Regions from separate parts of the Homo sapiens genome. Here region 2 is linked to region 1. A link means that fine-mapping ties the variant in region 1 to the expression of a gene that starts in the linked region. Tissue or cell type: lung. Region 1 holds a variant in brackets; the other region holds the start of a gene. All regions are shown on one strand. Distances are between the middles of the regions.

Evidence for each region. PIP is the estimated chance that this variant, and not a neighbour inherited with it, causes the effect.
Region 2: it holds the start of KEL, and the variant in region 1 is fine-mapped to the expression of KEL in lung (TOPMed, PIP above 0.99).

The regions. Positions count from the first base shown.
Region 1 is chr7:143,037,750-143,045,529 of GRCh38, forward strand. It overlaps LOC105375544 (a long non-coding RNA gene), which reads right to left and starts at 3,183. Exons shown (of 2, transcript XR_001745395.1): 1 at 1,643-3,183. The variant G/A (reference allele first, on the strand shown) is at 3,756.
Region 2 is chr7:142,959,261-142,967,040 of GRCh38, forward strand. KEL (Kell metallo-endopeptidase (Kell blood group)) reads right to left here and starts at 3,103. Exons shown (of 19, transcript NM_000420.3): 1 at 2,944-3,103; 2 at 2,535-2,612; 3 at 2,100-2,241; 4 at 1,668-1,844. The coding sequence starts at 2,946. RefSeq lists a silencer at 2,867-3,062 and a cis regulatory region at 5,185-5,586.

The DNA.
Region 1 (7,780 bases):
GTGAAAGTCAAGGGGCCGAAATGGAGCTAGTTTTTTTTTTGTTTTTTTTTTTGAGACGGAGTCTCGCTCTTTCGCCCAGGCCGGACTGCAGTGGCATTGTCTTGGCTCACTGCAAGCTCCACCTCCCGGGTTCATGCCATTCTCCTGCCTCAGCCTCCTGAGTAGCTGGGATTGCAGGTGCCCACCACCGCGCCCGGCTAATTTTTTGTATTTTTAGTAGAGACGGGGTTTCACCGTGTTAGCCAAGATGGTCTCGATCTCCTGACCTTGTGATCCGCCCGCCTCGGCCTCCCAAAGTGCTGGGATTATAGGCGTGAGCCACCGCGCCCAGCCATGGAGCTAGTTTTCAAGCTTTCTTCTTAATGGTGACCTGAGCCTCTCAGTCCAACATGAGGACTCTCCACTCATGACTCTTTGGATGGAACTCCTCCACAAAGCTAACATTTTTGTCTGAATCAGTTCTCTCTAGATAACATCATGGGCCATTACAGTCCACACCAGATCTAGTACATAAACTTATCCTAGATTAATGATTTTACAAGTGAGTAGAAGTGTTTGCTGAATATCCTTAAGCTCAAGGCCATTCCATGTCTATGTTTGACTTTCCCACATAAGTATACTCGGACACAGGTAAGAGAAGTCATCATGGCCCAGAGAAAGAAAAGGACATTCTGGCAAACTAGTAGAACAGATAGGGTTATTACCTATCCACTATATAGGGTTGCATTAATAATGTATGTTATTAGAGATAGGATTATTACCCCAGTGGCAGAGACATTACCCACAAAACAGGAAATGAGAAGGAACAAACCTTACTGACCTGCCACAAAACTTCCTAACTGACCTTCACATCTACCCTCGCTTCCCTCTGTCTACTCTGTTCTCCCCATAGCAGCCTGCGTGATCCTTTAAAACACAGACTAGATCAGGTCTCTCCCCGGATTAAAACCTTTCTCTCTGCCATTTGGTTAAAGTCCTGAGACCTGTGAGGCTCTGCATGATTTCTAGAAATACCTTTCTCTAATGTCATCTTGTGTCACTCCTCTGCTCAGTGACACTGACATCCTTTGTGCTCCTGTAATGGCACGCTGCTCCATCTCTCAGAGTGCTCATTGTGATTCCCACCATGCTGTGCCTAGTTAGCACCAGATACCAGTTAATGATTACTCCTATAGATGCTTCCCATAACCTCACAGACATATCCATGTTCAGGTTCCCTGCCAGGGGCTTTCCAGATATTACAGTAAATGCTGCAGTGCGCTGCCCGGACTCCCATTCAGAACCAAGATGCTAATTACCCCCAAATTGCTCCCAATCAAAGAGAAACACCTTCCCCAAGATTATAGCCCTTCCTCTAAGGTAGCCTGCATCCAATGGCCTATGGATGCAGAAGTATAATGCCCAGGCCCCAAGTTTCTGTTCAGGACAACTCTGGGCACAATTCAGGACAACTCTGGAAAGCCGTCCTAGCTCAGAGCTCCCCGTAGGATTTAAGCCTCTGTTGTGACCTCATCACAGGTCTGTCCAAACATCTTCTCCCTCATCACTCCCAGATCTAAGACAACCACGTAGTTTCTTGCTCAAAACAACTCACTATTTTGTAAGTGTGTGTGTGTGTGTGTGTGTGTGTGTGTGTGTTTACCTGGTTTTATAGCGTATGGTAACATCGGTCTTCATCAAATATGCTCCATAGTGGGGAGACCATGTCCACTCTGTTTACTGCTGTATCTTCAGTACATTGTCTAAAAAATAACAGTTATTCAAAAACAATTCTTATTAAAGTTTGTTTTTTTAATTTACAGTGAGATTGAGTTCTTTTCATGTTTAAAAAATCATTTGCAGTTTTCTTTAATGAATGTACAGGTTTGTAAGAGAACATTTTGCATAAATCAAACAAATCTTTATTTCATGTTTCTGTTTTTATGTTTTGTTTCTATCTTGCATAAATATTTCATCCTTAGGCAGTTACACTTAACAGTCTTTTAGACTCCCGGGATCCGTGTTTTCCTTTGAAAAGCCTATGTTCATACTCCAAGGAAATTAAAAACAAACCAAAAAATCCCATTTTTTACTTTTTACATTTAAGTCTGTTTGAGCCATCGGGAATTTATTATTTTTTGGAAGCATAAGGTATAGATCCAGGGTTTTGGTTTTTCCAGATATTCTGTGAATGTAATACATATTTCTAGGACAAAGGGAAGGTGGTGACAAGGAAGGGAGAAGAGAGAGAGAGCCCCCAAAAAACAAACTTAGAGGCCTGCCATGGCAAAAAAAAAATACCTCCTCCTCTATCTGGGTTGGGACACAGAGGGCATCCATATTTGGATGTGGAGAAACAAGAGATTAGAATGACTATGATATTAATAAGGGCCAAAGAATATCAGCAATGGAAAGATAATGTTTTCCAACACTTCGTTTTACATATTGTAAGCCTGAAACTCAGAAATCGAGTGACTTGTTAAGGTCATGCTGCAGTTTACTAGCTGAGTTGACATGAGTGACCGGGAACTCCTAGACCACCCTTCTACAGGAGGCAGTCAGCTGTTGTCAGCAGGGAATGAAGCACCAGTAGGTTGAGTGGAGTGACCTTCAAGAATCCTGGCAACCCTGAGATTCTGAGACTCACAAATGTGCTTTTGAAGATCAGCAGTCTTATAATCAAAGACAGATGCTTTAAGGTGAATAAGTTACATACTGGAACACAGTAAAAGCTCAATAAATACCTCAGCAATGAGTGTGGCATGTCCTTATCAATAATGATAAGTAAATGTGCCTCTGGACATGATGAAGAGGATCCATGAGCGTAAGTGTGCAGTTTATGACAACGTCAGTGTCTGGGATGGTTGCTGGAGTGCCAGGGAGACACAGCCCCTTGGGACTGAGCAGTGGAGAAAGGGGGAAGGGGACCTCACAGCTGGGGATCCTGAAGCTTCAGACTCTCCTCCATCCTGTAACACTGGGATAGTGAGGCCAGACAGCAGGAAAGGGCTGGAGAAGAGCATTGCTAAACAAACTTAGCTTGCTCTTGTCAGCTTACTAACATCTACCATGCTCTTCTATACCCCAAGACGACCTGTACTAGTGTGTTACATAACATGTTTTATTTAATTCTGAAATTAACCTTATGAGGGAGGCATTACTATCCCCATAATATTGGGGATTTTTTATTGAATAAAATTCCAGATTTTTATCTGCGTTACATTTACTTAATGAATGCTTAGTCAACAACTACTATGTAAATGTTACATTTCAAACCCAGGTCGAACTCCAAAGCCCCCCACCACACACACACACACACACACACACACACAACTGAGGTGCTGGACCCAGTCCTCATCTGCCTCTTGTTGCTGTCTGACTGTACCCATTGTTAGTTTAAGCATCAGCGTTGTACAACCCAAAGGACTCCTGGCTTTCCCTTGTTCCCACAAGGAGCACCCTGCTGGAGTCTAAAGTTTCCCATTTGGCCCAGCTCATTTCTTAAAATCAGCAAGACCCAAAGGTTTCAAAACAGAGTGGGTGAACAGCACCATCATCCCTGGGAGCAAAGAACAGCAAGAGAATCATTCTCATTGGATTTCCCTGCCACCTCCATGCTATCTCCAGCCTGACATCAGTCATGGATACTGCTGCCCTGGGCTGTATAGGGAGAAACAGTAAGTCTCTTCATCACAGACTCAATGAAAGTTGCTGACAGATTCTAACTTGTGGAGTCACTTGCAAAGCAGGGCCAGGGTTGCTTGCCCCATTCCCAA[G/A]GGGCTTATGTCTCCGTGTCAAAATCTGGGTACCACAGTCAGGAAGCCGCCGAAGTAAATGACCTAATAAGAAAAGCTCGCCATGCTGGACTTATGAATTAAGATGCATTGGCTGGGTCTGGAGAATGAATGAGTTATAAGGATTCGGTTTCGGTTAGTCAAGATGAGTTTAGACTTGGCATTAAGATTAGTGAGAGGGTTGCATGCTTACTGCTTAGGGAGATAGATCCACTTCTGTGATTAGATGTCATTGCTGATGGCCAGGATACAGTTCTAGGAAATACCTGTGGTTCCAGAGAGACAGCTAACATGTGTCTTCTCAGGGCTTCATTTGTGTGCTCTCATTTCTGATTTTATTTACTACTTATGGATCTCTAAAGGTATTCATTCAGTTAACTATAATTAAAGTGTGCAGCCAGCACACTGCTGGACCCATACATAGATGCATCAACACACACACACACACACACACACACACGCACACACACAAACCCATCACCTTCACGTTAAAGAAGTGTGGTTGGCGGTTGGGTTAGAAGGGGAGATGATGAGAATGAAGTTTCCATGCCAATAACAACAGCGGAAACTGCTGTTATTGAACTCTTCCTATGTGGCAGCCATAATCCAATTTGATGCTCACGCTAGCTCTACTATTTTTTATCTTACATCTGGGGAAAATTCCACTCCAAGAGGATTAGTATCAGCCCAAGGTCATACAACTGGCAATTCACAGGGCCAGGATATAAACCTAGACGGTCCAAGGTCTGTGCCGTCAGCCCCCATACAAGAGTGAGTCATGTCAGGGAAGGGTGGTCCACTAGGATAGTCACAGCATTTTAAGAAGCAGAGCTAGAAGTCCAGTGCAATCCACATACCACACACATCTTTCAGGGACTGTCAGAGCAGCAGCATCCAATGGGTCTTGCCTGGATTCCAGAGCTTGAATCTAAATATCTTGATTCCCTTTCTGCCTTCAGCCATTGTAAACATGTAGCAGATGGTCACCCCAAAGGGATCTTATTGTCTCTCTGTTCTGGCTCCCCTTGCTTCCTGAATTGAATGGCTTTGCTGCTGCTGCTGAAAGCTGGAAATATGTGGCTGAGTGAGAGTTCTCAGCAGAGGGGCATCTAGAAAGCCTCACAGGGGTGCTTTAGACTGGCTTCTGTGCTCAGCCTCTGGCCATGCTCAGTCCCGTGTCCTGCCTGCCTTTCCTCCCTCCTTCTGCTCACAATTTCTGCTTTTCTTTGTCACTTCTGCTGCTTCTCTTGGGTTACCTTTTATTCCTTCTAGCTTTCTGTCTGCATTCCTGGGCCTCCTGTGTCTCTCTGTCTCTCACTTTCTCTCCATTACTGCTTTTCTAACACCTCGCCTCTCTGGTTTTGTGTTTCTCGCATCCACACTGGCTCTCTCCTGTGAACCTTGGCCTTTCTTTATCTCTGACCACAAAGGTACATAGGGCTTAACACAGAAACGATGAAAGGAAACTTAAGGGATTAGAATGTAACACTAACAACATCTGCTACAGCAAGGTCACGCTGAAGTCACCAATAACTCAAATCTTTCAACGGCTTTTAACAACTATGTTTGTTTCTCACTCATGCCATGCGCCCATCACTAGCCAGGAAGTAGACTCTGCTCATTATTATACTGTAGGGACTGGAGCAGTAGAAAGCTCCCTTTAAACACATTCTTCCATGATCTCAGATGTGGAGAAAAAGGGAATGTGACTCAAATGCCAACCCTTAAAGCTCTTGCTATGAAGTGACTCTCATTACTTCTACCCATATCTCACTGGCTGAAGAAAATCACTCGACCACTCCTGAATTAATGGAGCAAAAATATGTGATATTCCCACTGGGAGGGTCACCTCCAGGAAGGACAACAAATATGAGTGAACAATTATTTGTCCATTATAAACGTCTGGGTTTCTGTTTGTTTGTTTGTTTTACTTATTCTCTTCCTCATGAATTTTGGGTTTAGCTTATCAAATAATGTAAGTAATTTCAGTTTCACAGTTTCTGTCACTGCTGAGCTACAGAATATCTGAAACAGTCATAGCATTACTATTCTTGGCATGATATAGAGGGAAAGGACAGTGTGTGAAGTGGGTGAAATCAGAGCTTCGGTCTCAGGCCCCAACATGTGATGACTGAGAAACACTGACATTTACTTAAGCTCTGTGAGATTCTACATTGTTATCTAAAAACTGAATATAATAATTCTCCCTCACAGGTTAACTCCAGAATAAATCTGTAGTCATTACATGTGATTTTTTTCTCCTATGTCTCTCATATTCTTCTCATTCAATCAGCAAGATATCTTTTATATAATCAATATAAATCAATAAGCAATGTAATGATATACAAGTTTGGATTATGTTTAGGTTGGTGAGACAAAATGACATAAAAATTAAGAGCAGAGTCTTTGGGATCAGATCTGATTCAAATTCAAACTCTACCATGCAGTAGCTGGTGTTAGTAGCTACTATCAATGTTTTTGTTTGTTTGTTTTGTTTCTTTTCTTTTGAGACAGGGTCTACCTCTGTCACACAGGCTGGAGTGCAGTGGTGCAATCATAGCTCACTGCAGAACTCCCAGGCCCAAGTGATCCTCCCACTTCAGCCTCCTGAATAGCTGGGGCTACAAGCACGCACCACCACACCCATCTAATTTTTGTATTTTTTGTAGAAATGGAGTCTCACTATGTTGCCCAGGCTGGTCTCGAACTCCTGGGCTCAAGCAATCCTCCTGCTTCAGCCTCCCAAAGTGGTGGGATTACAGTCATGAGCCACCATGCAGCCACTATTGTCAATATGATTAAGGATTGAAAGCCATTCCAGCCAGGTGCAGGAGACATCCCTATTTGTCATTTGTCTACCATTGCAGCCCATATCATTCACGATTTATTTGCCTTGCTCCACCCCTTCCTTACTCTGAAAAATTAGAATATTAATAGAAAACAGGTTTTAGGATCAGTTTTTATATCACACAAACATTTACTAATGCTTTGAGCTCAGATATGTAGGAATATTTATGTAAAGAAAAACATAAGTTGTATAACCCTTACCAAATTTTCCAAGAGTCATGGATTCTTTTACCAAGAAAAACCTCACAGATAAAGAAACTTTTTAAAAAGTCTTGCTTTTTTTGTTAAAATAAATTTTTCTCTAATTTTTGAGAGCTAAATGGTTAACTGAAAAATAAGCATTCATTAACAGAATGTGTTACACAAAAATTTATCACACATTTTAAGAGACGTATTACGATATATGCAAAAATCAAGACTGTGCTGTGTGGTTTTTAAGCTTAGTGACAAGTAGATCAAATAAGGTCTATGAATCGTATTTGTGTTTGACATCTAAGCAAACTGTCTGGGATCAGTTGTGGGAGTAAAGCAAGATGTTTTTGAGGCCTCGCGATGTGCATGTGTGATAGACAGAGTAATATTTTGTTGTTTTTATGTTTCAGAGATGCTTGCAGCTTGGGTGATATAAAACTCCCAGTGGGGCAATGTGTCTGCCTTCCTCATAAATGGACAAAAAGGAAGAAATACAGTGTAGTATCAGAACAAGCTTGACTTCAGATACTGCAGCCTCCTGTTCTCTGAGAAGGGGAGTGAAAAGAGAGTGGGGTGAGTTAGTGTCTTTCTTTCCATTCAGGATCAGATATCTGACAGAGTAGTCTAAGCCTTAGAAAAAGAAAATTTTGTTGACTTATCCATGACAGGTTTTTTAAAGGGCCACAAATTTTTTGGCACTCCTCCCATTAAGATATGGCTCTGGCTGGGTGCGGTGGCTCACACCTGTAATCCCAGCACTTTGGGAGGCTGAGGCAGGCGGATCACGAGGTCAGGAGATCGACACCATCCCGGCCAACATGGTAAAACCCTGTTTCTACTAAAAATACAAAAATTACCTGGGTATGTTGGTGCATGCCTGTAATCCCAGATATTCAGGAGGCTGAGGCAGGAGAATCACTTGAACCTGGGAGGCGGAGGTTGCAGTGAGCTGAGATCACACCACTGCA
Region 2 (7,780 bases), 78 kb before region 1:
GGAAAGAAAGACTCCCACAGAATATGGAAGGAGGGGGAGGAATAGAGATGAGGAAAATAAGAAAGATGAGAGGACTGCCCAATTTGGAATGGATCAACTTGATGAAATGATGAAAGCAGGGAAAGAGAATGAGGAGAAGAAGACAATATGGAAAATAAAAGAAATGTGGGGAAGAAACCAAGAAGGAAAAGACAGGGAAGAAAGGAGAAAGGTAGCAATAAGTGGGATATGGGCAAAGGAGAAAAGAGAGAAATGAAAGACAAAAGAAATGATTGAAGAAATTAGACAAATTCAGGGAACTAGAGAACTTTAAGGATTTGGAGAGAAGAAAACTCATAAGGAAAGGTTTAGCAAAGAGAAGAAACAGGGGAAGACTCTTCTAGTCCAGACTCCTCATCCATTGATCCCAGGAAACAAACACACTACAATAATCAAATGCAAGTCTCTCTGAATCATCCACCCTCTAATATCTAACACTCTTTTCACCCTCAGTCCCCCTGATATCTATTCATCCCATTGTAGGCAATATAATTTATCCTGAGCATATTTTTTCTTTTTATCTCTGTGCCTTCCCTGAAAGTATCCATTTACCCAAAGAGAGGCCCCCTCCCACTCTTTCCCCATCAAAAAAAGAGGGCAGAGGGGTGCATTTACTTTTCCCAGATTCTAATTGATAGTGTCAACACATTCTTTAGGTTCCCTTGCACTGGAAATGCATGTCTATCTTATATGTTCTTATTCCCAAATCCTCACCACCATCCACCAACTTCCTGGGACGCACTTCCAACCTCCTACTCAGTTTCAGCTCATCCTTCTGGTTTTCCTCTCAGTCCTGGCAGTTTTCCTCTCCAGCCTCCATCTGCAGGAACTTTACTTCCACTGCCAATTAACTCAGCTCTCCTCTTCTTCCAGCATATCCTTTGTACTTACCCACTTTTTCTCTTATGCACAGTGATGAAGCCCTCTCTCACTTCTCACCCCACCATCCTACCCCTTTCATTCCACCATCATCCATCATCTCCAATCATCCATCTCTAACATCCCACTTGTTCCAGGTCAACTTGCTTGCCATGGTTCAAGGTTTCAATGGAGAAGCAAGAAGCAAGAGATCATTGTGAGAGAGGGGAGCTCCGGCATGGTGAGAGGGAGAGGGTAATGTTGACAAGGAGTCATTGGGAGACTGAGGTTTTGGAGGTTAGAGAATGAGAGTGATGGACAAAAGAATTGAAATGCAGGAGATGCTGAAGAGATGCTTGTGGAGGAAAACACCATGCATAGGATAGAAACTGAACATTTGGAGGAAGCAACAAAGATGGAGCTTGCTAAAAGGGACAAGTTGGAGAGAATGGAGTAATTATGGATACATGGAGAAGCAAAGAAGATGGAAATTAGATAAAGAAAAAAATGCAGAAAGGGACCAAGAGAAACGGAAGAAGGGTACCCAAGGCAAGGCAACAGGAAACAGTGAGAGATGAGCAAACCCAGGCAGCTCCCGCCATCCTGCCTCTTTTACTCCCCCATCATCTCCAATCATCCACCCGTATAATCCCACCTGGGATGGTGCAAATCAGTTGTTCCACAACTACACAGGGTTTGGAGCAGTCATGGTCATTTTAGGCACAGAGTCACCCACTTGCACAGAGCATCTTCCACCCTGCTTTCCTCACCCAGTATTCTCCGAAGTCGGTTTTTGTTCTTTGTGGCAAGCTCCTGAAAAGAATTATTGGTCTCTTTGGCCCTTCCACAGGCAAAGCTGAAGAAGTCGGTGCAGGGGGCCACACTTGTGTTCCCAGAGGCCAGGTAATGATCCCGGAGATCCAAACACACAGATGTCTCACAGGGGCCTGTGGGGAAAAGCTCAGAGCTGGGAAAGAAGAGGCAAAAAGACAAGGGCTCCCCCAAGGGGCTAGGCAAAGAACATCAGGTGAGTAACTAAGTGGGGAGCTGATGAAAAAGAAATGGTTAGGATGCAGGGAGGAAGAAGAACCATGGGGACCCCAAGGGTCAGGGTGGGCAGAAGCCCCAGGAGCAGGGACTGGGCCTGGGCCCCAGGGCTGGGGGAGGGCTGACTAGGTTAGGGGGTCTGGGATCTTGCTTACGAGGGCCACAGTTCTGGAAGTTGTAGAACAAAAGCACAGAAAAACAAAGGAGCAGGCCCAAAATCAGGATAGCTGTCAGCACCCGCCTGGCCACTGCCCATGGCCTGCTCCCTTCCACGGGCAGCCTCTCTTCTGGAGTGCTCTGTGGGAGGAACCAAGAGGTGAAAGATACAAGATGGGGGTTGAGAGACAGGGATGGGAAGAAGAGGAGAGAGAATGAATCTGTTGGTGCTACAGTCCCTTTATACAGAAATAATTATCCCAATTCTTCCTAAACCCAGCCCTACTTTAACTCCTGGGAGATGAGAAAACAAGGAATGTCAACTGTTTTGGGTGAGGATGAAGCAGACAGTTAGTAGATGAGTGTTTGTGGGATTTTAGAGCCGAGAGTGACAACATCAGTGTATTCCAGACCCAGGAGAGGAGGCCACTTACCTCTTGGCTCCAGAGAGTTCCCATTCCACCTGCCTGGCTGCGTTCCCTCGGCTCTTCCTCACTTTGGTCCCCACCTTCCTGAAGTGAGTGGAGGGAGAAGGAGGAGAGAGAAGCTGGTTCAGGAAATGGTGCATTGAAGAGAGTTTTATCAGGCCATTTTGATACCCTCGCTGCCTGCCCTGCCCCCACACACATATTTTTATCTCGGAGCAGTGTTCCCAGATGGGCTTCAGAACGAACCTGTCCCCTGAATGTGCCATTTCTCGATCCCTCTCCCATTACCTCCCTCTCTCCCCACCTTTCTACTCTGTAAGCCTTACATTCCCTCCCCTCCAGTGGGGGCAGGACTTTTGCACACAGCCACCCTCACCCCTCCCCGCTAAGCCTCTGACTCCAAAAGGGGACTTACCATCTGTCTATCTTCTGTGGCTCCAGAATCCTTCCTGGTTCCACTCTAGGAGCTGATTCGGAGGACTGGGGTCCAGGAAACACCCCCCGCCCCAGTTCCTTGATCCTGGAGAAGGGGCACTTCTGCTGCTCTTTCGCCTTGTCCCCAGACACACAGGACTGGCCTCTGGGTGGAGCCTGCTTATCAGTGGGGGGCACCCAGGCTTCTCCTCCCCCTTTATCTCAGCTTCTCAGGGGAGAAGAGGGAGGGAGTCTTCACTCCCCAAGCAATCTTGCCCTTGGTCTGCTCCTTTTGTCTTGCACTGTGACTCTGCCCATGAAGTTCCTTTATTTCTAAAATATTCTTCCTTCTCTCATTTCTTCTGTATTAAAAAAAATATGAGGCACAGTAAAATTTTAAAGAGTTTATTTAAGTAAGAAGCAATTCATGAATTGGGGAGCACCAGACCGACAAAGGTTTAGTGTTGCGATGACAAAATGTCAGAGGCAAGCATTTATTGGGAAGTTATAGAAGCAAAATGAAACATTATTTGCTTAGTTTGCAGTTACATAATTGCATTTTTTAGGTAACTTTTTGGAAAGTCCCTAGTCACATAATCATATGTTAGTTGGCTGCTTATCATTGGCTGGGGTTAAGTTTTATTTGTTGTAAGCATTTATCAGAAATTGACCCAAGTTAAGTTTAATTTATGTTTGTAGTTTTAGCAAGAATATGGCTATTTTTAAGGTCTTTGGCTTTGTTTGCCTGGGAATTTTTCAGGCCCAGTCTCCATTTTAATTTTGTTTTCACACCTCTCTGATTGGCTTTTCTGGGATTCATCAATTCCCAGGTCAAATGCCACCTTTCCCAGGAGGCCTCCCAGCTCCATGCCCATTCACACTGTTCCCAAGCATGCTTAATTGTTTCTCTCGGTGTTTCATAGCTCTGCTGGCTGCTGGCAAAGTCATGCATTCAAAAGATCACCCAGCTAGGAGACCCTAATCTGCTAATTATTAGCTCTGTGACAATAAACAAGCCACTTAAACTCTGAGGCAGGTAAGCAAGTTTTGTCATCTGGAAAATGAGGGTAATACTTGCCTATGCCTACCTCATAGGATCTCATGCCTTCTACAAAAGAATAAGGCTTTACTGAGCCCCTCTTTCTTTCATTCTGCTTTCTGTTACACTGATAGCTTGCCTCTTCATCTCCTTAGTGATTGAAAACTATGTCATAGCATGTACAGTGTCTGGTTTTCATTCCTGCCCACCCAAGATGCTTTCTAAATGTTAATAGAAATGAATTGCATTCCAAGCCAGAAATCCTCTTTCTCACATCATATTAAGCCCTTACCTGTGGTCTGAGAGAGGCAAGCACATTTCTGGGGGAAGGTGTTTCAACTCTGTCCTTGTTTCCTCATCCCAGGAAAAAAATAATGTAATTTATTAGGTTAGTCTTGCAAATGATCCCCTGGCGATATTTCCAGATTCCATCAGCACTGTGCTAGGGCCATGGTGCACTTGCCAGGATGAGGGTGGGTGTGGAGAAGTGGAGTAAAGCCATTGTGCCCCCTGGGGCCAGCTGGTCGGGTATCATGAAAGTCATAAAGAAAAGTCAGAACTTCATACATTAGAAAAGAAAGCATTGGGAAAAATAAGGCTTTTGAGGAAAGGTGTGGCAAGATACAATAATATCTAAGAAACGCCGGTGTGGTATTGGGGATCTGGACTGATTGGATAAAAGACAAGAAACAGAGTGGTTAGTTTGGTGTTGCAGGAGTGATGAAGGGAGGGCCCGGCCCAAGGGGATGGCAGAGGGGAGGGAAGTGCGTAGAAAGAAAAATTGTATGGAATAAAGTCATGGCAATGGATTGAATGGAGGAGGGGTTTATGATAGAGCCACAGAGGAGCTCCAAGTTGCATTTCTGCATGACTAGGGGAATAGTGATGCCAGCGAACAATGGAATTTTGATTAAGGGGGGAGTAGGAATCAGAGTGAGGGGAAAAAGCTGACTCAGGATTCTAGAGGTGTTTGGTCTGTGTGGGTACACCCTGATGGTGCCTCCTCTTCAAACTTCCCTTCCACAGAAAGTCCAATACTCTCCCCATGGGCTTTTAGCTTCCTTCACACATATTCCCTTCCTCACTCCTTTTCTATCAATCAAAGCCCCTGAGCTGATGTTTCCCTAGGAAGATGATAATGGAGACCACTTAGATTTGATAAGAGAAAGTTGAAGATGGAGTGTGCTCTGTGACATTTGCCTATGGACAGCCACCACAGCCTGGACTTAGGTTCTCTCCCTGTCAGAGAAGCTGAGCCAGCCACAGGGATAGGGCAGCACAGCTGCCAGGTCCACCATTCCTACTCAGCCTCCTCCTGAAGGCCAAGCAACCTCCATCCTGGGAGCTGTCTCAGGAGCAGGACTTCTTCTTATCACCCATATCCTACTCCATGGTGAGTCATCACCAGCACAGCCATACCCAGTCACGGGAGTGCAGCAGCCTTCACTCAGATCTAAGCCCCGAGAAGAGGTGTGTTAACAGCTGTGGCACATGGACCACATTTATCTTTTCGGATGCTGCCTCCTTCTTGCCCTCAATTGTCCTGTCTGTTTATTTTAATTCCAGGAGGTTTTGTTTCATGCCATAATAGTATCAAAATAAAATATTGGTAATAATAAAAATAACCACTTTTTACGGAGCACCTTCTTTGTGCTAGGAATGTGCTAAATGTTTTGCTTGTACATTTTCCTTCAGTCTTCACAGCAACTTTCTGAGGGAAATAACAGCTTTTATTTTCCCCATTTTATAGATGAGCGGTCAGAGAGATATGAAAGTACAGTGAACTTACTCAAAGTTACAAAATTAATAATTAGCAGAACCGAGAATTGAACCAAAGCCTTAACCATTGAGCCTCTCAGTCACTAAGTATCTGTTTTTTGGAAGTTTCTTCATAGTAAACATCTTCCTTCATCTAAACTCTTCTTTTTAAACTATGTTTCACTGCTTGGCCTTGTGAGGTGACAGTTTTGGGGACTAGTATTCTCAAACTCTCTAACATCCAGTTTCATCATCTGAAGATCATGGCCTTTGCCACAATGTTCTATCCATAATCAGCTGCCATCTACAGTGGATGTGGTATCAAAATCAAGGACAGGACATTAATCTGTCTATTGTGACACTCTCAAGTGTGCACATGACTGGCAATTTGCTTCTAAGATCACTCGATTGCAGTGATAGCCACTAAGAAGCTACCCCCTAAAGAACAATAAACCCAGTTCTGAGTGAACCGAAGTAAGCCTTGACATCACAAGCAATGTTGAGGACTTTGCCCAGAAGATGATGGAGAAACAGATCATGGGGGGCAGGTTTTGGGGTGCACTGATTGCTCTTTCAAAGGAAGCAATACTTGAGAATTGGGGAGCTCCTTTGGGAAAGAGTAGCTTGTAAGTTCAGTATACCACAAAGTGGCTTTTGAAATAATTTAAGTGATAAGTAGATGGACCTCTTTCAATATGTGTGTGTGTGTGTGTGTGTGTGTGTGTGTGTATATATATAAATATATATTTATATTATATATATTATATATATATTTATATTTATATTATATATATTATATATATATTTATATTATATATATATTATATATATTATATATGTAATACATATTATACATATAATATATATAATATATATATATATTTTTTTGAGACTGAGTCTCGCCCTGTCAGCAGGCTGGAGTGCAGTGGCGTGATCTTGGCTCACTGCAACCTCCGCCTCCTGGGTTCAAGCGGTTCTCCTGCCTCAGCCTCCCGAGTAGCTGGGACTGCAGGTGCACGCCACCATGTCCAGCTAATTTTTGTATTTTTAGTAGAGACGGGGTTTCACCATGTTTGCTAGGATGGTCTCGATCTCTTGGCCTTGGCCTCCCAAAGTGTTGGGATTACAGGCATGAGCCACTGCACCTGGTCCAATATTTTCATTTTTATATACATTTTTCTTTTATAGATATATGACTCTAAGAAGACTAAAATACATAGCCTCTGTATTTTTATTAAATCAACTAAAATATACTAAACAAATAATAGCTGTATTGGTACTTGAATATGTCAAAAACTTGAAGAAAATGCTCAGAAGTCTGGAGTTTTAATTATGTATGGGTAGAAACAGCTCAAAAGGAGGATCTTTGTCCTTTTTTATTTTCTTTTTGGTATTTTCTACATGCCACCACATTTTTCTTCCTAATCCAACAGGTTTTGAAGATAGTACTCTGAATACAGAGACTCTAATAAGTTGTGTCAATTCAACATATGTTTCCTCAAGAAAATTTACATAAGTTCTTGCTAAAACCAAGGTCTTAGTCAACTACTACCATAATAATGCTTTGTTACAAACCACCCAAAACTCAATGGTTAGAGGAACAAGCATTTATTCTTTTTTTTTTTTTTTTTTTTTTTTTGAGACAGAGTTTTGCTGTTGTTGCCCAGGCTGGAGTGCAATGGTGCAATCTCGGCTTACCACAACCTCCGCCTCCCAGGTTCAAGCGATTCTCCTGCCTCAGCCTCCCGAGTAGCTGGGATTACAGGCATGTGTCATCACACCTGGCTAATTTTGTATTTTTAGTAGAGACGGGGTTTCTCCATGTTGGTCAGGCTGGTCTCGAACTGCTGACCTCAGGTGATCCGCCCGCCTCGGCCTCCCAAAGTGTTGGGATTACAGGCATGAGCCACCGTGCCCAGCAAGCATTTATTCTTATGTTTAAATGTCTCACTTGGAACAATGAGAAACAAAAGAATGGGACAAGCTGTGTGGTCTCCCTCTTAGCAAATGTACCAGTTACTTATTACTCCATAATAAACAA